Linked DNA regions of Homo sapiens. The protein of the gene in region 6 interacts with the protein of the main gene of each other region in a pairwise test. Each region holds a gene or a part of one and is shown on either strand. Other genes may lie near its edges.

What was found.
Region 1: the proteins of LMO2 (region 6) and PBX4 interact in binary tests that used the Homo sapiens proteins (3 or more experiments, as listed by UniProt).
Region 2: the proteins of LMO2 (region 6) and EFHC1 interact in binary tests that used the Homo sapiens proteins (3 or more experiments, as listed by UniProt).
Region 3: the proteins of LMO2 (region 6) and MSN interact in binary tests that used the Homo sapiens proteins (3 or more experiments, as listed by UniProt).
Region 4: the proteins of LMO2 (region 6) and MISP interact in binary tests that used the Homo sapiens proteins (3 or more experiments, as listed by UniProt).
Region 5: the proteins of LMO2 (region 6) and PAX9 interact in binary tests that used the Homo sapiens proteins (3 or more experiments, as listed by UniProt).
Region 7: the proteins of LMO2 (region 6) and ISY1 interact in binary tests that used the Homo sapiens proteins (3 or more experiments, as listed by UniProt).

What each region holds. Positions count from the first base shown.
Region 1 is NC_000019.10:19,608,688-19,612,187, forward strand, and holds part of PBX4 (pre-B-cell leukemia transcription factor 4), read right to left. Parts: intron 1-3,500.
Region 2 is NC_000006.12:52,426,842-52,430,341, reverse strand, and holds part of EFHC1 (EF-hand domain-containing protein 1), read right to left. Parts: intron 1-3,500. UniProt on the Homo sapiens protein: Microtubule inner protein (MIP) part of the dynein-decorated doublet microtubules (DMTs) in cilia axoneme, which is required for motile cilia beating.
Region 3 is NC_000023.11:65,733,654-65,737,153, reverse strand, and holds part of MSN (moesin), read right to left. Parts: intron 1,888-3,500; coding exon 1,724-1,887; intron 360-1,723; coding exon 229-359; intron 1-228. UniProt on the Homo sapiens protein: Ezrin-radixin-moesin (ERM) family protein that connects the actin cytoskeleton to the plasma membrane and thereby regulates the structure and function of specific domains of the cell cortex.
Region 4 is NC_000019.10:757,612-761,111, reverse strand, and holds part of MISP (mitotic interactor and substrate of PLK1), read right to left. Parts: coding exon 2,386-3,500; intron 1,204-2,385; coding exon 1,073-1,203; intron 1-1,072. UniProt on the Homo sapiens protein: Plays a role in mitotic spindle orientation and mitotic progression.
Region 5 is NC_000014.9:36,668,360-36,671,859, reverse strand, and holds part of PAX9 (paired box protein Pax-9), read right to left. Parts: intron 1-3,500. UniProt on the Homo sapiens protein: Transcription factor required for normal development of thymus, parathyroid glands, ultimobranchial bodies, teeth, skeletal elements of skull and larynx as well as distal limbs.
Region 6 is NC_000011.10:33,864,577-33,868,076, forward strand, and holds part of LMO2 (rhombotin-2), read right to left. Parts: intron 242-3,500; coding exon 26-241; intron 1-25. UniProt on the Homo sapiens protein: Acts with TAL1/SCL to regulate red blood cell development. Also acts with LDB1 to maintain erythroid precursors in an immature state.
Region 7 is NC_000003.12:129,140,564-129,144,063, forward strand, and holds part of ISY1 (pre-mRNA-splicing factor ISY1 homolog), read right to left. Parts: intron 1-3,500. UniProt on the Homo sapiens protein: Component of the spliceosome C complex required for the selective processing of microRNAs during embryonic stem cell differentiation. Required for the biogenesis of all miRNAs from the pri-miR-17-92 primary transcript except miR-92a.

The DNA.
Region 1 (3,500 bases), on a different chromosome or scaffold from region 6:
CACCAAGCCTACAATGCCGCATCCACTTTCTTTGCCTAGGCAAAGCCTCAAGTCCAGATCTTGGCCATCTCCTCAAGGCTCCTTGTCCCCCGCCTGACTTCACCTAGACTCCAGAGTCATGCACTCTGATTGCCCATGCTCTACAAGCTCTAGTCTTGCTGAAGGGCTAACTCCTCATTGCCCTCTCTGGTCCCCGTGTCACCGCACTCTCCAATGTCTGCCTCTCCAAATAATGAATCTCCTTTCAGAACTCACTGCTGCATTCCCAAGCCCAGCACCAGACCTGGCACAAAATACATGTTTATTGAGTAGATGACATTTAATTTGCGAGAATGTACTTTTAAAAGTGTCCTGTAAAGCCCGAGCCTGACTGTCTGATCTCCCACGGCACCCAATCAGCTGGGCTCCTCTGAGCAGGAAGCGATGTCAGATTTAAGTGAGTTTTGTAGGATCCCTGGGAAAAGCAGAGACAGGTGGCAGGCAGTACAGCCTCAGAGTTCAATAGAGCATGCCCAAATCTCCATCCAACTACCCTCCAGTTATCTGGCCACTTGATTCCTTATCTAGAAACACAGTGAAGAGCCAGGCGCAGTAGCTCACACCTGTAATCCCAGCACTTTGGGAGGCTGAGGCGGGTGGATCACCTGAGGTCAGGAGTTGGAGACCAGCCTGACCAACATGGAGAAACCCCGTCTCTACTAAAAATACAAAATTAGCCAGGCGTGGTGGTGCATGCCTGTAATCCCAGCTACTTGGGAGGCTGAGGCAGGAGAATCGCTTGAACCCGGGAGGCGGAAGTTGTGGTGAGCCGAAATCGCGCCATTGCACTCCAGCCTGGGCAACAAGAGCAAAAATCCATATGAAAAAAAAAAAAAAAAAAGAGCCAGGCGCAGTGATTCACGCCTGTAATCCCAGCACTTTGGCAGGCCGAGGAGGGCAGATCACGAGCTCAGGAGATCGAGACCATCCTGGCTCACACGGTGAAACCCGGTCTCTACTAAAAATACAAAAAAATTAGCCGGGCGTGGTGGCGGGTGCCTGTATTCCCAGCTACTCGGGAGGCTGAGGCAGGAGAATGGCGTGAACCCGGGGGGCGGAGCTTGCAGTGAGCCGAGATTGCGCCACCACACTCCAGCCTGGGCGACACAGCGAGACTCCGTCTCAAAAAAACTAAAGAAAGAAAGAAAAACAAACAGTGAAAAACCACCCACTTCCTAGGGTTCTGGGGAGGGGTAAATGAGGGAAATCCTTATTGTCATCATCATCAACCACTGTGTTCTGATAGAGGCACTCGGTAGCTGTCATTTAAATGAGTGAGTGGTACTTGCTCCTTTGTGAAATTCTACACATGGCTTTACTTTTCATTAATAAAGCTATTTCAAAGGGGATTTTGCCAAAAGACTTTTAGATAGCTTCAGGGAATTGTTTTAAAACTAACACAATTTGCCAGGCACGGTGGCTCACGTCTGTAATCCCACCACTTTGGGAGGCTGAGACGGGCGGATCACCTGAGGTTGGGAGTTCGAGACCAGCCTGAACAACATGGAGAAACCTCGTCTCTACTGAAAATACAAAATTAGCTGGGTGTGGTGGCACGTGCCTGGAATCCCAGCTACTCGGAAGGCTGAGGCAGGAGAATTGTTTGAACCCGGGAGGTGGAGGTTGCGGTGAGCAGAGATTGTGCCATTGCACTCCAGCCTGGGTAACAAGAGTGAAACTCCATCTCGAAAACAATAAAAAATTTAAAAAACTTACAAAAAAATAAAAACAACACAATTCAAGCTGGGCAAAGTGGCTCACACCTGTAATCTCAGCACTTTGGGGAATCCGAGGCGGGATAATCATTTGAGGTCAGGAGTTCAAGACCAGCCTGCCCAACATGGTGAAACCTCGTTTCAACTAAAAATATGAAAATTAGCCGGGTGTGGTGGCTGGCGCATGCATGTAATCCTAGCTAATCAGGAGGCTGAGGCATGAGAATCACTTGAACTTGGGAGGTGGAGGTTGCAGTGAGCCGAGATTACGCCACTGCACTCCAGCCTGGGTGATAGAGCAAGACTCTGTGTCAAACAACAAAAACCAACACAATTCAACTCTTAGGAAAAGTACACCAAAGACAGCAAGACTCCTCTGGCACTAGACCAAGTCAAGCTAAGCCTGCAAGCAAGCTAAGAAGAAAGACTACAAGGCACGAAGTCAACTGGCATCTAATTAATCTCTTTAGGGATACTGAAAAAGAAAATTTTAAATATGAAATCCTACTTCCCAGGTTTGGACTGATAGATCCTCTCATGCTAATGCTATCTGGCTCTGGGAAATTCCACATCATAAATTCCCCCTAGAACCCTTGCATTCTTTGAATGGGTGTGCGGAAGGCTGAATGCTCACTGACATGCTTTATAACTATGTATGAATATAAGGTCAGAACATACATAAGTATACATACTTTATAAGTATATGTGTTCTGACCTTATATTCACTATTGCAAAAGTACCAAGCCTAGGGGAACACATTTCAGGTATCAGTTCACACCTTGCCTCTTCAGTAAGTTTAAAGGATAGTCAAAATCACTTCATTATCTCCCCTTCATAATAGGAATTTAATCCATATCTAGGCAAAGTCAATCTGCAGAAATATTGGAGGGACTAAGAAAGTTATGCAAATCTCTACTAGTTGAGGTCATAATAGTAAAAATCAAATTAAAAAGAGAAGGCCGGGCATGGTGGCTCACACCTGTAATCCCAGCACTTTGGGAGGCCGAGGCGGGCAGATCATGAGGTCAGGAGTTCAAGACCAGCCTGGCCAAGATGGTGAAACCCCGTCTCTACTAAAAATACAAAAAATAGCCTGGTGCAATGGCAGGTGCCTGTAATCCCAGCTACTTGGGAGGCTGAGGCAGGAGAATCACTTGAACCCAGGGGGCAGAGGTTGCAGTGAGCCGAGATCATGCCACTGCATTCCAGCCTGGGTGACAGGGTGAGATTCTGTCTCAAAAAAAAAAAAAAAAAAAGAAAGAAAAGTTCAGAGATATGTTTTCTTCCTAAGAAAACCTATGCAGGCATTGCTGGGTTGCCTAAAACCAACTTCCAAATACATTTTTGGTTTTAGGTATGCCATCTCACACACCACACTGCTTGCTCCTAAAACATTATAACAGTGAGCATTTAGAATGGGTGGGATGGCTCATGACTGTAGTCCCAGCATTTTGGGAGGCTGAGGCAGGAGGACAGCTTGAGCCCAGGAGTTCAAAACCAGCCTGGGCAACATAGTGAGACTCTGTATCTACAAAAAAATGTTAAGGCCAGGCACAGTGGCTCATGCCTGTAATCCCTGCACTTTGGGAGGCTGAGGCAGGCAGATCACCTGAAGCCAGGAGTTCTAGACCAGCTTGGCCAACATGGTGAAACTGTGTCTCTACTAAAAATACAAAAATTAAGCCGGGCATGGTGGTGCATACCTGTACACACCTGTAATCCCAACTACTCGGGAGGCTGAGGCAG
Region 2 (3,500 bases), on a different chromosome or scaffold from region 6:
ACAGCCAACATAATGCTGAATGGGGAAAAGTTGAAAGCATTCCCTCTGAGAACTGGGACAACATAAGGATGCCCACTCTCTCCACTCCTCTTCAGCACAGTACTAGAAGAAGTCCTAGGCAGAGCAATCAGACAACAGAAAGAAATAAAGGTCATCCAAATAGGTAAAGAAGTCAAACTGTCACTGTTCACTGATGATATGATTGTTTACCTGGAAAATCCTAAAGACTCCTCCAGAAAGCTCCTAGAACTGATAAAAGAATTCAGCGAAGTTTCTGGATACAAAATTAATATACACATATCAGTAGCTCTTCTTTACACCAACAGCGACCAAGCTGAGAATCAAATCAAGAACTCAACCCCTTTTACAATAGCTGAAAAACAAACAAACAAACAAAAACTTAGAAATATACATAACCAAGGAGGTGAAAGACCTCTACAAGGAAAACTACAAAACACTGCTGAAAGAAATAACAGATGACACAAATAATGAAACAAATAATGGAAACACATTCCATGCTGATAGGGTGGGAATCAACATTGTGAAAATGACCATACTGCCAAAAGCAATCTAAAAATTCAATGCAATTCCCATCAAAATACCACTATCATTCTTCACAGAATTAGAAAAAACAATCCTAAACTTCATATAGAACCTAAAAAGAGCCCGCATAGCCAAAGCAAGAATAAGCAAAAAGAATAAACCTGGAGGCATCACACTACCTGATTTCAAACTATACTATAAGACCATAGTTACCAAAACAGCATGGTACTGGTATAAAAATAGGCACATAGACCAATGGAATAGAACAGAGAGCCCAGAAATAAAGCCAAATACTTACAGCCAACTGATCTTTGACAAAGCAAACAAAAACATAAAGTGAGGAAAGGACACCCTATTCAACAAATTGTGCTGGGATAATTGGCAAGCCACAAGTAGGAGAATAAAACTGGATCCTCATCTCTCACCTTATATAAAAATCAACTCAAGATGGATCAAGGACTTAAATCTAAGACCTGAAACTATAAAAATTCTAGAAAATAACATTGGAAAACCTCTTCTAGACATTGGCTTAGGCAAGGGTTTCATGACCAAGAACCCAAAAGCAAATGCAATAAAAACAAAGATATATAGCTGGGACTTAATTAACCTAAAGAGCTTTTTCACGGCAAAAGGAACAGTCAACAGAGTAAACAGACAACCCACAGAGTGGGAAAAAATCTTCATAATCTATACATCTGACAAAAGATTAATATCCAGAATTTACAATGAACTCAAACAAATTAGCAAGGAAAAACAAAGAAGCCCATCAAAAAGTGGGCTAAGGACATGAATAGACAATTCTCAAAAGAAGATATACAAATGGCCAACAAACATATGAAAAAATGTTCAACATCACTAATGATCAGGGAAATGTAAATCAAAACCACAATGTGATATCATCTTAGTCCTGCAAGAATGGCCATAATCAAAACATCATAAAATATTAGATGTTGGTGTGGATGCAATGAACTGGGAACTGCTGGTGGGAATGTAAACTAGTACAACCACTATGGAAGATTCCTTAAAGAACTAAAAGTGTGAAGATTCCTCAAAGAACTAAAAGTAGAACCACCATTTGATCCAGCAATCCCACTACTGGGTATCTACCCATTGGAAAAGAACTCATCATACAAAAAAGATACTTGTACATGCATGTTTATAGCAGCACAATTTGCAACTGCAAAAATATGGAACCAACCCAAATACCCATCAATCAATAAGTGGACAAAGAAAATGTGATATATATGATGGAATACTATTTAGCCATAAAAAGGAATGAATTAATAGCATTCACAGTGACTTGGATGAGACTGGAGACTATTATTCTAAGTGAAGTAACTCAGGAATAGAAAACCAAACATTGTATGTTCTCACTCATAAGTGGTAGCTAAGGTATGAGGATGCAAAGGCATAAGAATGACACAATGAACTTTGGGGACTCAGGGGGAAAGGGTGGGAAGGGGGTGAGGGATAAAAGACTACAAATTGGGGGCACTGTATACTGCCTGGGTGATGGGTGCACCAAAATCTCACAAATCACCACTATAGAACTTACTCATGTAACCAAACACGACCTGTTCCCCAGTAACCTATGGAAATAAAAAAAATTGTTTTTAAAGTAGTGGGATAACATCAGCTTTCCCAGGTAGAATAAGAACTTGATTGTTACGTAGAAAGAAAAGAAAAATTATATTTAAATACTGTGTTTAAAAATATACTTTTCATGGAATTTTATAGCAGGCTGGGCTCCTGATTATCATGTATTCTAACCTTCTGAGTTTATAGACGAGGAAATTAGAGATTGTGACTACAAGGTCACAATGTTAGCTGGTAGGAGACCCAGAATTAGAATCCAGGTCTTCTAACTCCCAGGAAGTGCTCAGAATGCCACAATAAACATAAAAATATTTGTATTTACTTCAAGATGAAGGGGGGAAATGCTGCATAAATATTTTCATATCACACACAATTATAAAAAGCCAAGTCACATTTTTAATTTTACATTATTATAAGCATATATGGTACGTGTTTGACTTGCCAATTTTCAGCAGTGACACAGACAAGAAATAAATTTTGTTAATTATTCATGTCATTTTAGAACTGATATTTATTGAGCACTAAATATATAATAAACTATATAAGTCCTTACCTTCATGAAGTATACACTCAGGTGGGACAGATAAACACTAAACAAATCAGCAACACAAATTATAATATAGTGCTGCAAAGGGGAAAAAAAAAAAAGAGAGGGAAGTGATATAGAAAAATGAGGAGGAACTGCCATAGCAGAGTGGCCAGGAAAAGCCTCACTGAAAGGAAAGATGGAGTCAGCCACTTAAGGATGGTGGGGAAGCTATTTCAGATAGGAGAAATGCCATGTACAAAAAGGCCCTGAATTGGAATTTTCAAATGCTGCCATTTCAAGGAAATCAGTAAAAATAAATCCAATGTATTGAAACATGATAGGTGAGAAAAAGGACCCAAGATGAGGCTGGGGAGAGAGCAGGGAGGGCCAGCTCCAGTAGGGCTGTGAGGAACCTGTAGAGTTGGATCTTTATAGATGATAGGGAAGCCATGGAAGTGTTTCAGTCAGTATGTGACATAATCTGATTTTCAAAAAATAAGCCTGGCTGCTCTGTGGAAAATAAATTTATGGTAATAGTGAGGATGAAAATAAGTAAATGAATTAGTTACATATTTTAGAAGCAGAAACAATAGAACTTGCTAATAGATTAGATGTGGATTGTGAGGGGAAAGAAGAATGAAAGATGACTTTCATGTCACAGTGAGGTGAATGGTGGTAATGTTTACTGTATTGGTTAAGAAAGCCTGATGGCATTTTCCCAGAAAAATGACATAATCAGAGCTGAACTCTAGAGAATAAACAAGGCAGCATACCTGTTATAAGCATAAGGACTAGGAATGAGACTAAAACAACAGTTAGGTAGTCATTTGGC
Region 3 (3,500 bases), on a different chromosome or scaffold from region 6:
GCAGTGAAGAGCACAGAGATAAAGACGACACAATAGCTTCGTTCCTGGAAATGATCCACCCCAAGACAAAGCTGGCAGAAAGTTCTGAGCTCTCTTCTTGCCCATTCTTCTTCTAGTCTGTAGCCACACCTGAACTACATTGTCTGAGTCTACAGCTCAGGCAGAAGGTTCTCCAGCTCAGAGTTAGGCCTGGAAAAATCCAATCTCCAAGGTGACTCCAAGCCTCACCTTGCTGAGCCTTCTTAGTCTGTTCCTCGATCTGCTTCAGCCTCTCCATCAGCTCCTCCTTCTCCCGTTCAATCTTCTCTTTCTCCTTCTCTGCCATTTCACGCTTCTTCTTCTCATTTTCCAGCATAGCACTAGGGAAGGAGATAAAATGGATAGAACAGGATAACAACGCTCCACAAAAGCCTGGGGAGGCCAGGCGCGGTGGCTCACACCTGTAATCCCAGCACTTTGGGAGGCCGAGGTGGGCAGATCACGAGGTCAGGAGATCGAGACCATCCTGGCTAACACAGTGAAACCCCGTCTCTACTAAAAATACAAAAAAAATTGGCTGGGCATAGTGGCATGCGCCTGTAGTCCTAGCTACTCAGGAGGCTGAGGCAGGAGAATTGCTTGAAGACAGGAGGCGGAGGTTGCAGTGAGCTGAGATTGCGCCACTGCACTCCAGCGTGGGCAAAAGAGCAAGACTCCATCTAAAAAAAAAAAAAAAAGCCTGGGGAATTCCAAGGCTTGCTGCCTCTGGGTCTCTCAACCCAACCTTCCCAACACACTTAGGGATTGTGAGTTTGGGCCACCCTCCCTTACCTCTATACCCTTGTCCTCATATCATAGCCCCACATAGGCCAGTGTACACGGGGCCCTGTCAATGTACCCCTGAGTCAGGAATCCTAGCTCTCCCACCAACCCACTGGGTGACCTTAGCTATGTCACTGCTTTGCTCTTGTTCCCCTATCTTGAAAATGGTCCAATAAGACCTGCCCTATCCACCTTGTTAGGGAGACAAGTTTTGGCTCTGTGCTGGGATGAAGTGCTTCAAGTCTAGTAATCTCTACGGCTAGTGCATCAGTCCTCAGGTCTAACACTGCCTGCCCTAAAGCCCAGCTCTAGGCTTCTTTTTCCCAGAGTCTGTTACAAATCTGGAATAAGTATTTGCTTTTGCTTTTTCTTGCCCTAGCACCTCTTCCAGGAACCTTCTTATCTCCCTTGGCTAGGTATTCTCCATCTGGGCCCTCAGAATACTTGGCTTACCCTTCTCCCCATCCCTCTTCTATGTTTTTGTCTCCATAGCACTTCTTAACCATCTTATGTACCACATAATTTGCTTATTTATTATGTTCGTCTCCTCCCCACTAGAATGCTAGCTTCACAAAAGCAGAGATTTTTGGTCTTTTCTTATTCATTGCTCAATAAATATTTATTAAGTGAATGAATGACATGGCCTTTGTACCTTGAGTTATGTATATATTGTTTTCCCTCTCTCTGCTACTAGACTGAGTAGACTGTGAGGTCCTACAGGGCAGTTTCCTGCTAGATCCAGCTCTGTAAAAACTGCCCCTCAAACTTGGTAGATTTTTTCTGAATAAATGTGAATATTGGTGTCTAACCTCTCATCTATGAAGTCCTAGGTTGGCCTCATGTCCTGACTTAGCATGCAGGGCACCTTTGAGAAGCTTCCTTGCCCCAGCCCTGGCCCCCCACATCAGTGTGCAGCACCTACCGCTCCATCTGCTTCTGGTGCTTCTCCTCCCGGGCCTGTGCCTTCATCTGCTGCACCTCAATGGTATCAGGCTTGCGACGGCGCATGTATAGTTCATGGTTCCCCATGCACAAGGCCAAGATCCGCTTGTTAATCCGCAGCCGGGGAGCATAGAAGACGAAGTCCTGGTGGGAAATCAGCAATCAGAAAGAATTTGGAGGGACAGGTGAAGGTGATCTTCTGCCTTCTGAAAAGCTAAATCCAAAAGCACTGGAAAGAATATTTAATCTGACCTCCTGCACTACAGATGGGAAGACTAATTATCAGAGTGGTAAAGTGACTTGCCCAGGGTTAGACAGTAGACAGACCCAAGACTAGAAACCCAGGTTTCTTGACTCTGAAACCCATGTTCTTCCCATAATTTCTTTCAATCTTTGCTTATGAAACCACAATTTCTTTCAATCTTTGCTTGTGAAAGCATCCTAAATTACTCTTAATCAAGTTGAAGGATTCAAACTTTCTCTGCTAATTAGGGAACATGCTAGGTCTCAGGTGACCTCTTTTGGAAGCCAAATGACCCCTGAATAATACCCTGGTGGGTGCAGTATGGGTGGCTGGACTGTTTCTACAATCTCCTAAAAGCAAATCCTAGACCCAGCCCCTTAAATCCTTTTTGGAACAAGGCAGGCTGTAAATACATACATGAATACATAAATCTCCTGATCACTGCTTGTCCTGGTTGTTGTTTTTAAAATGAGCCCTTGATCTCAGCTGGCTTTGTTACTTAACTTTTTCTGATAATAGTTGAGCACAGCAGCAATAAAAGAAAACACACAAGAAAATCCAGTGAGTTTGAGTTTGTTACTACAAATACCACTGGACCGAAGTCACCAGCTGATGGGCACCACCATCTCCTCTGCCACTGACCACACACTGCTACTGTCTCATATAGCTTGGGGTGCAGGTATAAATCCCAGCTCTACCATTTTTAGCTGTGTGATCTTGGGCAAATCACTCCATCTCTCTAACCTCAGTTTTGTCAGCCATAAAATTAGTATGCTACTTAGTACCTACCTGACCATGTTGCTGAGGGTTTAAGGAGACAACATGTGTAAAGTCCCTAGCAGGGGAAGTTCAGGCACCTCATGGCTGGAGAAGAATCACTGAGCCTTCATGAAAAGGGTCAGGCTCAGCATTGTCACTGGGCCTTGTTGGACATGCAGTATCCCAGAAAAGGGGACACTCAGCTCAGTTTCCTAACCTACCCACAATCACCAGCTGTCTGGTCTTGTCAGCTGCAGGCTACTGAGTGGGTAAGAAGCATGGCGAGTGTGTTAGAGAAATGAATGAACTTAAAGCACTTTTTTGGTCTTGGATTGCTCTGGAGAAAAGTCTGAGAGGGCAGCAGTAAAGTTCTACCAAGAAGTCTGTAGGATCATCTTCAGATTTGGACTTTGGCCACAGCCCTTTCTCCACAATAAAAAAAAAAGAAGTCAAGGGCTGGGCATGGTGGCTCACGCCTATAATCCCAGCACTTTGGGAGGCCAAGGCAGGCAAATCACCTGAGGTCAGGAGTTCAAGACCAGCCCGGCCAACATGTTGAAGCCCTGTCTCTACTAAAACTACAAAAATTAGCCAGGCATGGTGGCATGCGCCTGTAATCCCAGCTACTCGGGAGGCTGAGGTTGTAGTGAGCCAAGATTGCACCACTGCACTCCAGCCTGGGCAACAGAGCGAGACTCCATCAAAAAAAAGAAAGAGAGAGAGAGAGAGAGGAAGGAAGGAAGGAATCAAATAT
Region 4 (3,500 bases), on a different chromosome or scaffold from region 6:
TCTCAAAAAAAAAAAAAAAAAAAAAAGGACATAATATTCCTCATGGCACTAAATATTCCTCGTGTCATTAAAAGTGACGTGAGGAATATTTCATACTGACAAAAGGAGCTCTCATCCAAGAGGATAAACATACATGAACAATTACATGTCTAACAACAAGGCATCAAAATTCATAAAGTAAAACCCCTAAGGCAAAGCTCTGTGGCCTGTAGGTCCTGGAGTCAAGCCTGGGTTCATGAGCTGCCTAACCCTGGGCATGTGAGACCACCAGGGTGCTAAAGGTGTGGTTCATTGGAAGCCCCGAGCCAGCGTGTGACAGACACATCCCTCCGTCTCTCCCTCTCCCTCCCTCCCTTCCTTCCTCGCTTTGTTCCTTCCTTCCCTCCATCCCTCCCTCCCTCCTGCCTTCTCTCTCTCTCTCTCTCTTTCTTAGAAGTAAATATCTGTGGCCAGGTGCAGTGGCTCATGCCTATAATCCCAGCACTTTGGGAGGCCCAAGTGGGCAGGTCACTTGAGATCGGTTTGAGACCAGCCTGGCTAACATGGTGAAACCACGTCTCTACTAAAAATACAAAAAAATTAGCCGGGCGTGGTGGTGCACGCCTGTAATCCCAGCTACTCAGGAGGCTGAGGCAGGAGAATCACTTCAACCCGGGAGGTGGAGGTTGCAGTGAGCCGAGATCGTGCTACTGCACTCCAGCCTGGGCGACAGAGTGAGACTCCGTCTCAAAAAAAAAAAAAAAAAAAGAAACTAATGCTGGTGACGATGACAAATTGCCAGTGTCCTCCTCCTCCAAGCAGAGTTGGTCCTTTGGTCTTTGATCCTGGAGATGACCTCCTGATGGGGACAAAGACCCCAGCTTATATGGCCTCTCCAAGCAGAAGCCCAGAGATACAAGGACACCAAGTTTATCATCTTCTACCTGACATCTGCAGGAGACTGAGGCACGGCCAGGGGTGGGGGTAGTGCTTGAACCCAGGTCAGGCTTGAGTCCTGCTTGAACTTCCTGTGGCCCTAATAGGGGCTGTCTGACCTCAGCCTGGCCTCTGCAGAGACGGGTTCCAGACTCACCCATTGCTCCTTCTTTCTCTGCCCGGGAGGAGCACTGTCCACTGGATCTTCCACTGTCCACGCCACGTTTGAGTGTAGGTGGATGGGGCTGAAGAAGGGAGACTCAGACACCGAGTAACTGCCCGTGATGCCTGTAGGGGAGCAGGGAGGGCAGAACATTAGAACATTTGTCAGACCTCTGCTCGGGAGACAGAGTCTCTAGCCAGCAGCTAAGGAGACAGATGTATGGACAGACAGAGCAGATGACTATCCGGGAAACTGACAGATTGACCAAAGTAGCCAGTCAGGAGAAACTGGATGCACAGATGGGCCGACATGCAAGGTGAAGAACATTAAAAGTGGCCGGGCGCGGTGGCTCACGCCTGTAATCCCAGCACTTTGGGAGGCCGAGGTGGGTGGATCACGAGGTCAGGAGATCGAGACCGTCCTGGCTAACACGGTGAAACCCCATCTCTACTAAAAATACAAAAAAATTAGCCAGGCGTGGAGGCAGGCGCCTGTAGTCCCAGCTACTCAGGAGGCTGAGGCGAGAGAATGGCGTGAACCCGGGAGGCGGAGCTTGCAGTGAGCCGAGATCGCGCCACTGCACTCCAGCCTGGGTGACAGAGCGAGACTCCATCTCAAAAAAAAAAAAAAAAAACATTAAAAGTGACACAAGGAATATTTCATATTGTCAAAAAGGTGCAACTGTCCAAGAGGATAAACATATATGAACAGGCCGGGAGCAGTGGCTCATGCTTGTAATCCCAGCACTTTGGGAGGCCAAGGCAGGGTGGATCGCCTGAGGTCAGGAGTTCAAGACCAGCCTGGCCAACATGATGAAACCTGTCTCTACTAAAAATACAAAAATTAGCCGGGAGTGGTGGTGGGCACCTGTAATCCCAGCTACTCAGGAGGCTGAGGCAGGAGAATCGCTTGAACCCAGGAGGTGGAGGTTACAGTGAGTTGAGATCCTGCCACTGCACTCCAGCCTGGGCGACAGAGCGAGACTCCGTCTCAAAAAAGAAAACCGAAAAACAAAAAACAAAAACAAAAACAAAACACACAAAACATATATGAACATTTATGCGCCTAACAACAAGGCATCCAAATCCATAAAGCAAAAGCCCTAAGGTAAAGTTGACATTTCTCTCCAAAATCTACATTTTTAATAGACAGGCAGACAAACCAGCGACTGAGGGGATGAACAGTCAGGAGGCAATGTCTCCCCAACCCCAGCCCTTTGACAGCCTCAAACTCCACCTCCCCACCCTCCCCTGCTCCAACCTCTGAGACCCTGAGCCAAGCAGCCACTCCCTGGAGCCCCTTCTCACCGGATGCCTGGGAGGAGCTCCTGGAGTTCTGGTCAGAGTTCTCATCTGGCGTTGGGGAGAAGACCTCTGGGAAGAGAGCATTTCTCCGCTCCTCTGCCACCTCTTGCTCCCGGCGCAGGACACTCTCCCTCTCCCTTTCCAGCAGATCAGATGACTGGGACTTCTGCAGCCTCAGTGCAGGGGCCCCAGCCACCTCCCAGCCCCAGACATGGGGGACTTGGGCCTGCTGGGGCTCGTCTGGGGCCCTGAACCGCAGAGGACGCAGGCGGAAGTACTCCCACCGCACGACACCCCTGTTGGCTTGCGGGCATCCCCGAGGGGGCTTCGATGCCTCTTGCTTTGTGCTCAGGGGTTTTCCAGAGGATTCTGAGAGATGCCTCGGGGACATCGTGGCCTTTGGTGAAGTCGCAGCCTTGGCCTCCGCTGTGGAGAGACTGCTGGGCTTGCCGAATGCTCCGAAGGCTGAGAATTCTAGCTGGGGGGTCCCGGGGCTCAGGTACGGCTGGTAGGCATCAGGTGGGATGCGGTTCACCTTCCTCACTTCTGGAGCTGGGTCGGCCGCACGGGCATCTGGGGCCGGGCTGAGGATGGAATCTGAGCTGAGGGCTCTCCGGAGTCCGGGCTGGGGACCCTCCGAGACCCAGTCGGGTGTGGACGCCCGGCCCACGTGCAGGCCCTCCCGCCGGTGGTCTTCCTCACGCTGTGTCTCCTGTACTATGTCCCGCTGCACGTAGAGGGACGGGCGCCCTCTCTCCCGCCGTGGGGCTGTGATCAGGCTCAGCTTGGTCAGCAGCGGCCTGGTGGGGATTTCCACCAGCTCCTGGTGGTCGGTTGCCTGCCGAAGCCCCCTCTGCTCTCGCAGGTCTGCCTCACGCTCCTGAGCCAGACGGATCTCCCGCTCGATGGGCGTCTCCTTGGGGGTCCCCGGGGACTCCACTGAGGCCAAGGAGCCAGGGTCATCCACAACTTGGACACTGGCCCAGGTGGGCACAGCACGCACCTTGTTCTCTTCCCTGACCACCCCCTTCACCTGGGGCTTGATGGGAACCACGTGCCCGTTGGCCAGGTGGGGCTTGTTGAAGGCCTTGGGGGCCTGGCTGGCCCCTGGGGTTGTG
Region 5 (3,500 bases), on a different chromosome or scaffold from region 6:
ACATTAACGGAAATAGTCTAGAAAAAAATATATAAGATGCAATGTAGTTCTTCTAGTTAAGGTTATCACAAGAAGAATGAAAGTACAAGTTTTAATTTCGTTTGTTCCAAATGTTCAAAATACAGATTTACCAATTTTTTAAAAGTAACTTTGGTGAATATGTTGAGGAACTGTATTGGCAGAGGGCTAGATTGTAAACTGTCTGAGGACAGGGACTTGCCTTAATCATCTTGTATCCCCACAAAACAGGATACATCATAAGCATTCCACAACCATATGTATATTTAAGTTAGTATAGGTTTGTGAAAGCAAAAGATGTGACACTGTAGCTTAAAAAACAAAGCAAAAATGTAGGCACCGTTTATCACAAAACAAGCATTACACTTTAAGCAAGCAAAATGAATAAAGCTGTTGAAAAAAGTAAACAGAAGTTCTAACCTAGCCATTTATTACTTGATTTATGGTTATTCCATTTATCCTCCCTCCTCCAAGTAAAGGAAAATACGTTAGTATCAAAACACTTGTGACCACCATAAAACTGGTATGGCAAATGTCTGGCAGTTAGAGGTTATAGACCATTATTCAAATTCTGGGAATTGTCTACTCAACATTATTTATCGTGAAGATAAATGCAAATAACAGTGCCAGGTCCTCTACCCACAATCTGCTTTCACTTATCAGTTCAACCTGGTCCTCTTATGATAAAATGAATTTACCTTGGCTTTATAATAAAGTAGATTTAGCCACAAATAGAGATGTGCTTCACCTAGAATTTCAACCTCGATATCATAAGCAAGAAAAAGTTTTGGATCTGAAAATAAACAAGATTTTCTCTTTTTTGGTGAACTCATTTTTCTGTCATTCTTCCATTTTTAATGCATTATGCAATGACCTAGTAAAACATACCTGACAAAATGAAATGATGGTTATAAATATGGTTTCAACATTCATCCAACAAGATCTTAATTATGCTTACTTATCATATTGTAGATGTAAATGTCTCTAAGAAATGGAAAGCCGCTATTTAAAAGCTTTTCTAAATTTTATAATTTTCCAAAATATTATTAAAATTGACATAGCCTTGAAAAATTTGCAATTACCTTTCCCTGCTATTTTATACAATACATTTTACTGATACATGATCATTAATTTTATTTTGAAATACTACTGGTTAAAATGTAACCAGGTCAAAGAATGTTTTTCATAACAGATAACATTATGAATTTCAAAGACACTCTGCTGGCATTTGCCTAAGATTTCATTGTCTATAAATCATAACTTATTTACAAAAATTAACTTTAATATGAAGACAAATTTAGTGCAATATCATTTATATCTTCCTGAGAATAGTACATCCACAAGGACAGCCAGTTTTTAAAATAATACACTAGAAAATCACATTCAGGATTCTAGAAGACTATCTTCACTTCAAATGCATGTGCAAGTAAATGCTTCATAAGAATTTCAGATTATATCTTTAAATTCAACTATTTTCACAACTTAATTCTGAACTTTTAAAAAGTTCAAGTATTTATAGACTATTCTCTATTTCTGACATCTCAGTCTGTAGCTAGTGTTATATTAAACTTGCCAAATTAATATCTGCAACCCCAAAATGAAGATACCCAAAGCTTATAAATCTGTCACTCCAATTACTTTAGAGTATCAGATATGCAATGTATCTTTCTTGAGACAGTATGCCCATTTGTAGAAAATTTTTCAAGAACTATACAATTATTTATATATAGTTTGAATAAAATTGAGGCATTAATTCATGAAATACTTCCTAAAAGGGCAAATGTATTCCAGTCCCTATGATTCTCTATATAAGGTTTTTTGGCCACTCAATTTTATTCCATTGGAGTTTTATGCTTTCAACAGAAGAGAACCGGCCATCAGGAAGCAGAGAACATTGTTGCCATTCAGAAGTAAATGGAATTAAGTACTTCTAGCCCCAATATTAACTGTGGGTATAAAAAAGCCAAAATAAATATTCTATCCTCAGAGACAATAAGGACTTCTGAATGGCACTGCAAAATATTAATTACAATGTAATATTAATATGTAAGACAAGTTAGAATATTCTACACTGAATTTTCAAAGACAAAAGATAGGTATATGCATAGCTGAAATGTGCATACAGTTTTAATTACTAGGAATCAGGACATCTGTCTTTACAGTTTAAGCTGAAAATAGAAACTCTAGATTATGGTAATCAATAGTATCTATACTCAGTTGCATAGTTTAGCCCTTTGGTAATTCTACAGATGTCCTCAAGAAAAATATGCTTTAAGCTCTATGATTCTGAATTCTCAATTTCCTTCTTTGTATAATAAAATTAAACTAGTATCATATAATTTTGCACTATTTAATAACAATCACAAATGCCCTGAAAGTGGGAAAAATTTTAAAGCTTTTTTTTGGCCAAAGACATTCAAGTTATTGTCCATAATATAAGCAGAGGGAAAAATACGTGTTACCAGAGTTTACATTTTGGTTGAAATATGCTGATTCCATTTTGAAAAATAACTTTTAAAAATAAATCTGCCCTTTGAATATTGGTAAGAGAAATGCACATATATGGGCAACACTTTACCTTTGTATGTTTATAAACAAGTATTAATGTGCAATTTAACCTTACATGAAATCAATGTCTAAAGTTCAAAACTGCTCAGAAAAATGGCACGGCTGAACTTGGCACATCTTCAACATTAAGCACTATTTTGATAATTATCATAGAGTAGCCACTAATTTATATTATTCTTAGAAACTTTTCAGGTTTTGAAATTTTACATCATTTGAATTATCTAACTATTAAATACATTGCAATGCAGAAGATTAGCATATTGCAATTAAGAACTTCGCAAATGTAAGTTTCATATAAATATTTTTATTCTGGAAAAAATAGCTTATTAAGTATTTAGAGCAATATTTATTTGGTTACTTATTTCTTTAAATTATATTCTTTTATAAATGTGATAATTTAGTGATTTAAAATTTAGTATATAAAATGTAATCTATTTTTAATAATCAGAATATCAATTATTTAAAACTTCAAATTTTTTATTTTAAATAATTTGTCAGTTTAGTTTTGAAGTGTATTATAAATTAAGCATTTCCAAACAAATTTCAATGTTAGATCTATAATTCAAGGAAGAGAAAATAAAAATTACTGGCCGGCACGGTGGCTCACGCCTGTAATCCCAGCACTTTGGGAGGCCGAGGTGGGTGGATCACGAGGTCAGGAGATCAAGACCAGCCAGGCCAACATGGTGAAACCCTCTCTCTACTAAAAACACAAAAATTAGGTGGGTGTGGCGGCGCGTGCCTGTAATCCCAGCTACTCAGGAGGCTGAGGCAGGAGAACCGCTTGAACCCGGGAGGCAGAGGCTGCAATAAGTAGAGATCGCGCCACTGCACTCCAACCTGGCGACAGAGCTAGACTCCGTCTCAAAATAAATAAATAAATAATAAGTATAAAGGGTTTTTTTTGGGATTAT
Region 6 (3,500 bases):
CCCAGTGGAGTGCCGGGGAGGGTACCTGAGATAGTCTCTCCGGCAGAGCTTCCGGCCCAGTTTGTAGTAGAGGCGCCGCCCCACCTCACCCAGCCGGCAGCCACAGAGGTCGCAGCTCAGGCAGTCCTCGTGCCAGTACTGGTCGATGGCCTTCAGGAAGTAGCGGTCCCCAATGTTCTGCTGGCAGCCGCCGCATGTCAGCAGGGATGGGGGGATCTGCAGCACCTCATCCACTGGTTCCCTGGAGAGAAGGCCAAGCATCAGGGACAGCCTCACCAGAGTGAGACCAGCACCGAGGGTCCGAGATCGTTTTGGGCCAGACAGGGCATCTCACCTGACTGCCTTTCAGTGACCTAAGGGAGAAGGGACAGGACAACACATCCCTTGGCCAGACTGCAGAGTCCCAACCAACCTTGGGTTAAGACGGGAAAGAGCCAGACCTTACTCCCTAGATGTCTAAGAAGTAAACACAGGGCACCAAGAGGCATCAAAGGCAATTGCAGGTGGCACTGTGCCCCTGCCCATGCCCAGCACTACCTGGGCACCTCTGGTCTCCTTCTGCTTTTTCCCACTCTCCCCGCTGACTCTATCTTCACAGATCTCCCTCATTTTCCTCCTCCCATAACCTGGACACCCAAGGGCACTGCCTAACCTCAAAGGACGCACTCTGGACTAAAAGAGTCGCTCACTGCCAGGGCAGCAGATGACCCAGAGTGCTAAGAATCTGCAAATCCCCAGTGCCATCCTCCCTCCAGCCCTAACCAACTGCACAAAAGCAGAGGTGAGGAAGAAAGAAGAATGAGACCAAAAATTATTTTAGGTTGCTTTCTCTTTCCAAAATCAAAATTCCATCAGGACATAATAGGAATTCTCCTAATTTTACTTTTTTACAGAAATTCCATTTTCCATTCTTCCTACTGAAGGAATACTTGGAGGAAAATCCCATATCGTAAGGCCATTGTTACACGAAGGACATCAAATAGGCCTTTCTTTCCTTACCTGAACATTTTTATAAGAGTAAAATTGATTTGGATAAAGTTGATTTGAGGAAGAAAATGAAGTGGGGGCAATGATTATTTCAAAGAGAGTGGAAGGCAATTAAACAGACACTGACATCTCAATCCAGCAATTGTTAATAGGCTGTGACACGTGTTCTTTCGTTAATACGCCATGCATAGCATCTCCTGTTCACTTTGCTTCACTGGAATCTGAATACATTTTTACATTTAAAAATAAATAACTTTGCTAAAAGAAAATAAAGGAGTGGAAGGAATTATTCTAGTGTCCCCCACATGGGACACAGCAAACACTTAATACGTGTTGATTTATAATAATTAGCAAGTGTTCTCTGGAACCTTACTTAAACACAAATCTATTTCTTAAAAATCTATTATGTTTCAAAAAACAGACCTTCTTCCATCTGTAAAATTCCCAAAGGGAGTTTCCTCCTGGGTACCCTGCAGGTATAAATCCATGTCTCCTATTTCTAACTGGTACTAACTTACCAGGCGACCTTGTGTCCTAATTGGTCTGTGCCCATAAAGCCCAGCAGCCATTATACTTGGGGACAGGAGGCTAGGTGGCTCAATGTCTATAACACTCTGACAACTTCAGGTGATCCCGTCATGTGAAGTATGAAGTGTTCCTTATGAATATTTAGGAGTGCTAAAGCCATGCCCACACTTTCTAGACACAGTGTAACAGCACTTCATGAGACTATCATCTTTGGAACAAGAAAATGGGAAGCTCAAGTTAGTTTATCTGGGGAAAAAAAATGGCCAGGTACAGTGGCTCACGCTTGTAATCCCAGCACTTTGGGAGGCCAAGGCAGGAGGATCACTTGAGCCCAGGAGTTTGAGGCCAGCCTGGGCAACGTGGCAAAATCCTGTTTCTACAAAACATATAAAAAATTGCCCAGGCTTGGTGGCATGAGCCAGTAGTCCCAGCTACCCAGGAGGCTGAGGTGGGAGGATCATCTGAGCCCAGGAAGTTGAGGCTGCAGTGAGCACTGCACTCTAGACTAGACAACACAGTGAGACCCTAGCTCAAAAAAATTCAAAACTATAGTTTTTTGTTTGTTTGTTTTGAGACACAGTTTCACTCTTATTGCCCAGGCTGGAGTGCAATGGCACAATCTCGGCTCACTGCAACCTCCACCTCCTGGGTTCAAGTGATTCTCCCGCTTCAGCCTCCCGAATAGCTGGGATTACAGGTGTCCACCACCAGGCCCAGCTAATTTTTTTTATTTTAAGTAGAGACGAGGTTTCATTCACTGAAGCCTTGCTTTCTTTCCTTTGTTTCTACAGATTGTATATAAGGACTGCCATTTCCCCTTCTAATAACTAATACCCTAGCTTTTTCATGTGTATCAACTCAGAGTTGCATCTCTTCTCTTTCCACAGCCCATGGTCTTACTCTGGGCTTTCAAAACCACTCATGGAACCTGGACGCACATTGGATGTCCCGATGTTGATGCTGCCAAAGGACTGTGAAAGAAGAGAATTTGCCCTTAGCTGGTGCAAAACTGCCTGGAATTCAAATGAACTGCTCTTGTTACTCACAGGGGAGGCAGTGGGGGCCACCAGTAGCACAGCAAGGGAATCTGTGTTCATGAATTCTGGCTGGCTTTCTGTCCAAATGTTTCATTTGCATATAGCTAGGCAAGTCTCCATCTGTAATTTGGAGATGCTGATTGTAATGACCCAAGCTGGATTTGAGGAAGTACACAATGAAGCATCTAGTAGGATACTGGACAACAGGAGGAATGTAAAGTAAAAGAGTTACGGTGATGGCCTGAGATGAGATGGAGAAGTAAAGTATAAGATATTGGCTCTGTCTTTCTATACTTAATTAATGATAATATCACATTATACTTAGTGGACAATCCAAGACAATGACTGAATTAGATTGATTCACCCTCAAATTAATATTTTATATTCTCCCAGACCCTTATCTTGAATATTACACCTGAGTATCATTTAAGCCTGGATTTCTGGGACAATCATAACAATTTCTAAGGGCATGGGGAGAATGTGCTGCAGCAATTTCTCAACTGGCTTGTCCCTCTTTGATCAGAATCTGTCTTCGTTGGGCAAATAGTGAAGTGAAGGAAGGAGCTGGTGAGCCTCCAGCAGTAGATATCTGTTGTATTAGGAAGTTAGGATGTTTCAGTTTCTAACCTCAGTGAAAAAGCACAAACTTTGAAAGAAGCAAACTTCCTTCAGGGAAATGAAACCTTCAGATTAATCTTCTATTGAAAGGATTAGTGACTAAATTCTGCTGATCAAAAAGGCATGAGGCACCAATTCATCCAATTCACTCCCTTATTGTGTTACTATGATCTTGCCCAGTCTCTGAAACTCAGAGCTCAGTTTTAAGTTTATTTTAAAAAAGTGATCAAACCACCCTTTAAACCCATTGTTTGCATAAACATACTTTTAAAAAGGAATGTTATTTTTCTCCTGAGAATTTGTTGAAGGAAGTGGGGGTTTTTGTTATAA
Region 7 (3,500 bases), on a different chromosome or scaffold from region 6:
AGTCTCGCTCTGTTGCCCATTTATTTATTTGAGGTGGAGTCTCGCTCTGTTGCCCAGGCTGGAGTGCAGTAGCACAATCTCACTGCAACCTCCACCTCCTGGGTTCAAGTGATTCTCCTGCCTCAGCCTCCTGAGTAGCTGGGATTACAGGTGCGTGCCACCACGCCTGGCTAATTTTTGTATTTTTAGTAGAGACGGGGTTTCACCATGTTGGTCAGGATGGTCTTGAACTCCTGACCTCATGATCCACCCACCTCGGCCTCCCAAAGTGCTGGGATTACAGGCGTGAGCCACTGCGCCTGGCAGATCTGATCTTTAAACCCACTATTTCCATGTTTGCAAATATATTTTAAGATAATAGCTGGATGCAGTGGCTCACACCTGTAATCCTAGCACTTTGGGAGGCCAAGGTAGGCGATCACTTCAGCTTAGGAGTTCAAGACCAGCCTGGGCAACATGGCAAAACCCTGTCTCTACTAAATATACAAAAATTAGCTGGGTGTGGTGAGACATGCCTGTAATCCCAGCTACTCAGGAGACTGGGGCAGGAAGAATTGCTTGAACCTGGGAGGTGGAGATTGCAGCGAGCCAAGATCGTGCCACTGTACTCCAGCCAGGGCTGGAGTAAATTAAATAAATAAATAAATAAATAAATAAATAAATAAATAAAAAACACTTATGGGCTGGGCACGGTGGCTCACACCTGTAATCCCAGCACTCTGGGACACCAAGGTGGGAAGATCACTTGAGGCCAGGAGTTCACGACCAGCATGGGCAACATGGCAAAACCCTGTCTCTACAAAAAAATGCAAAAATCAGCCAGGCATGGTGACACACACCTATCGTGCCACTGCATTCCAGCCTGGGTGACAGAGCAAGACCCTGTCTCAAAAAAAATAAATAAAACTAGGCCGGGCGCAGTGGCTCACGCCTGTAATCTCAGCACTTTGGGAGGCCGAGGTGGGCGGATCACGAGGTCAGGAGACCGAGACCATCCTGGCTAACATGGTGAAACCCCGTCTCTACTATAAATACAAAAAATTAGCTAGGCATGGTGGTGGGCGCCTGTAGTCCCAGCTACTCAGGAGGCTAAGGCAGGAGAACGGCATGAACCTGGGAGGCGGAGCTTGCAGTGAGCTGATATCACACCACTGCACTCCAGCCTGGGTGACAGAGCAAGACTCCGTCTCAAAAAAATAAAATAAAATAATTAAAAAATAAATAAATAAATAAAGATAAAAAACACGATGCTAAGTGACAAAACCTTTAAAAAGATTACAAACAACCTATATGACAATTAGTGGAAAACAAATGAAATATATCCAGAAGATACAACTATATCTATTAAAACTGATGATTTGCTGGGTGCGGTGGCTCACATCTGTAATCCCAGCACTTTGTGAGACCAAGGCGGGAAGATCACCTGAGGTCAGGAGTTCAAGACCAGCCTGGCCAACATGGTAAAATCCCATCTCTACTAAAAATACAAAAATTAGCAGGGTACGGTGGTGCACATCTGTAATTCCAGCTACTTGGGAGGCTGGAGCACAAGAATCACTTGAACCTGGGAGGCGGAGGTTAGGGTGAGCTGAGATCGCACGCCACTGCACTCCAGCCTGGACGACAGAGCGAGACTCTGTCTCGAAAAAAAAAAAAAAAAAGACGATTTGACAACTACATGTAGTATGTGACCCCAGATCAGGTCCTGTACTGCAGGGGAAATGCTACCAAGGACATTATTGGGAAAACTGATGAAATGCCACATGGATTCAATTATTGTAGCCAAGTTAAATTTCTTAAACTTGATAGCTCTACCATGGTTACATAAGAGAATATTCTTCTTAGGAAATACACATATATTAAAGGGTAAAGAAGCATGATGTATTGTAACCTACCTTTCAAGTGGTTCACAAAAAATAAATCTCAAGGTACACAAAGAAAATAAAGCAAATACAAGCAAAATGTTAAATACTGGTAAATCTGTATAAAGGGTATATAAAAGTTCTCTGTATATTTTTGCAATGCTCTTTGAGTTAAAAAACATTTTTTTAAATCATACAATTTGGCTGAGCACAGCGGCTCATGCCTGTAATCCCAGTACTTTGGGAGGCTGAGGCAGGATGACTGATTGACTCCAGGAGCTCAAGACCAGCCTGGGCAACATAATGGGACACCATTTCTACAAAAAATTTAAAAATTAGCTGGGCATGGCCAGGCACGGTAGCTCACACCTATAATCCCAGCACTTTGGGGAGCCAAGGCAGGTGGATCACCTGAGGTAGGGAGTTCGAGACCAGCCTGGCCAACATGGTGAAACCCTGTCTCTACTAAAAATACAAAAATTAGCTGGGCGTGGTGGTGGGCACCTGTAATCCCAGCTACTCTGGAGGCTGAGGCATGAGAATCGCTTGAACCCAGGAGGGGGAGGTTGCAGTGAGTCGAAATCACACTCCTGCACTCCAGCCTGGGTGACAGAGCGAGACTCCGTCGCAAAAACAAAAATTAGCTGAGCATGGTGGCACACACCTGTCATCTCAGCTGCTCAGGAGGCTGAGGTAAAAGGATTACTTGCACCTGGAGTCAAGGCTGCAGTGAGCCATGATCGTGCCACTGCACTCCAGCCTGGGGTGACAGAGTAAAATCTTGTCACAAAAACTAAGAGGCTGGGTGCAGTGGCTCACATCTGTAATTCCAGCAGTTTGGGAGACCAAGGCGGACAGATCACCAGAGGTCAGGAGTTCGAGACCAGCCTGGCCAACATGGTCAAACCCCAACTCTACTAAAATATAAAAATTAGCCAGGTGTGGTGGCGCACACCTATAATCTCAGCTGCTCTGGAGGCTGGGGCACAAGAATTGCTTGAACCCAGGAGGCAGAGGTTGCAGTGAGCCAAGATCGCACCACTGCACTCCAGCCTGGGTGATGAAGCGAGACTCTGTCTCAAAAAAAAAAAAAAAACTAAACTAGAATAAAATAAAACAATATACATATCTATCATATGATTATTTATTGACACGAAACTGTATTCCTTGTACAGTTTAGAGAATAAAGCACATAGAATATTAATGAATTTCTATAATGTATATACTAATATGTATTTTTTATATCTTATAATTTTTATATTTATATTTTTTCTCTGCACAAAAATATGTACTGTTTATATAATGAAAGCTACCATTTTGAAAAGAAAAACAAAATCCAGAACCAAAATTGTACATACAGTGAGTATGGTTTCAATTATGACATTCATACAAAAACAACGGAAGGAGAAAAAAGATAAAGAGCATATTCAAGTGGCTGCACTTATGTAATGGGATTGTGACTGAGTGTTGTTCTGCTTCTTTGTACTTTTCTGAACTTAGTGGTAATATATTACTTTTATATGTAGAAAATAAAAATAAAATTATTAAGCATTAAAAATCTCTGGAAAAAATATATAAAAATATTAATAGTGTTGAATTTGGGTGGTGGAACTTAACATTTCACATACGAATTTTTTC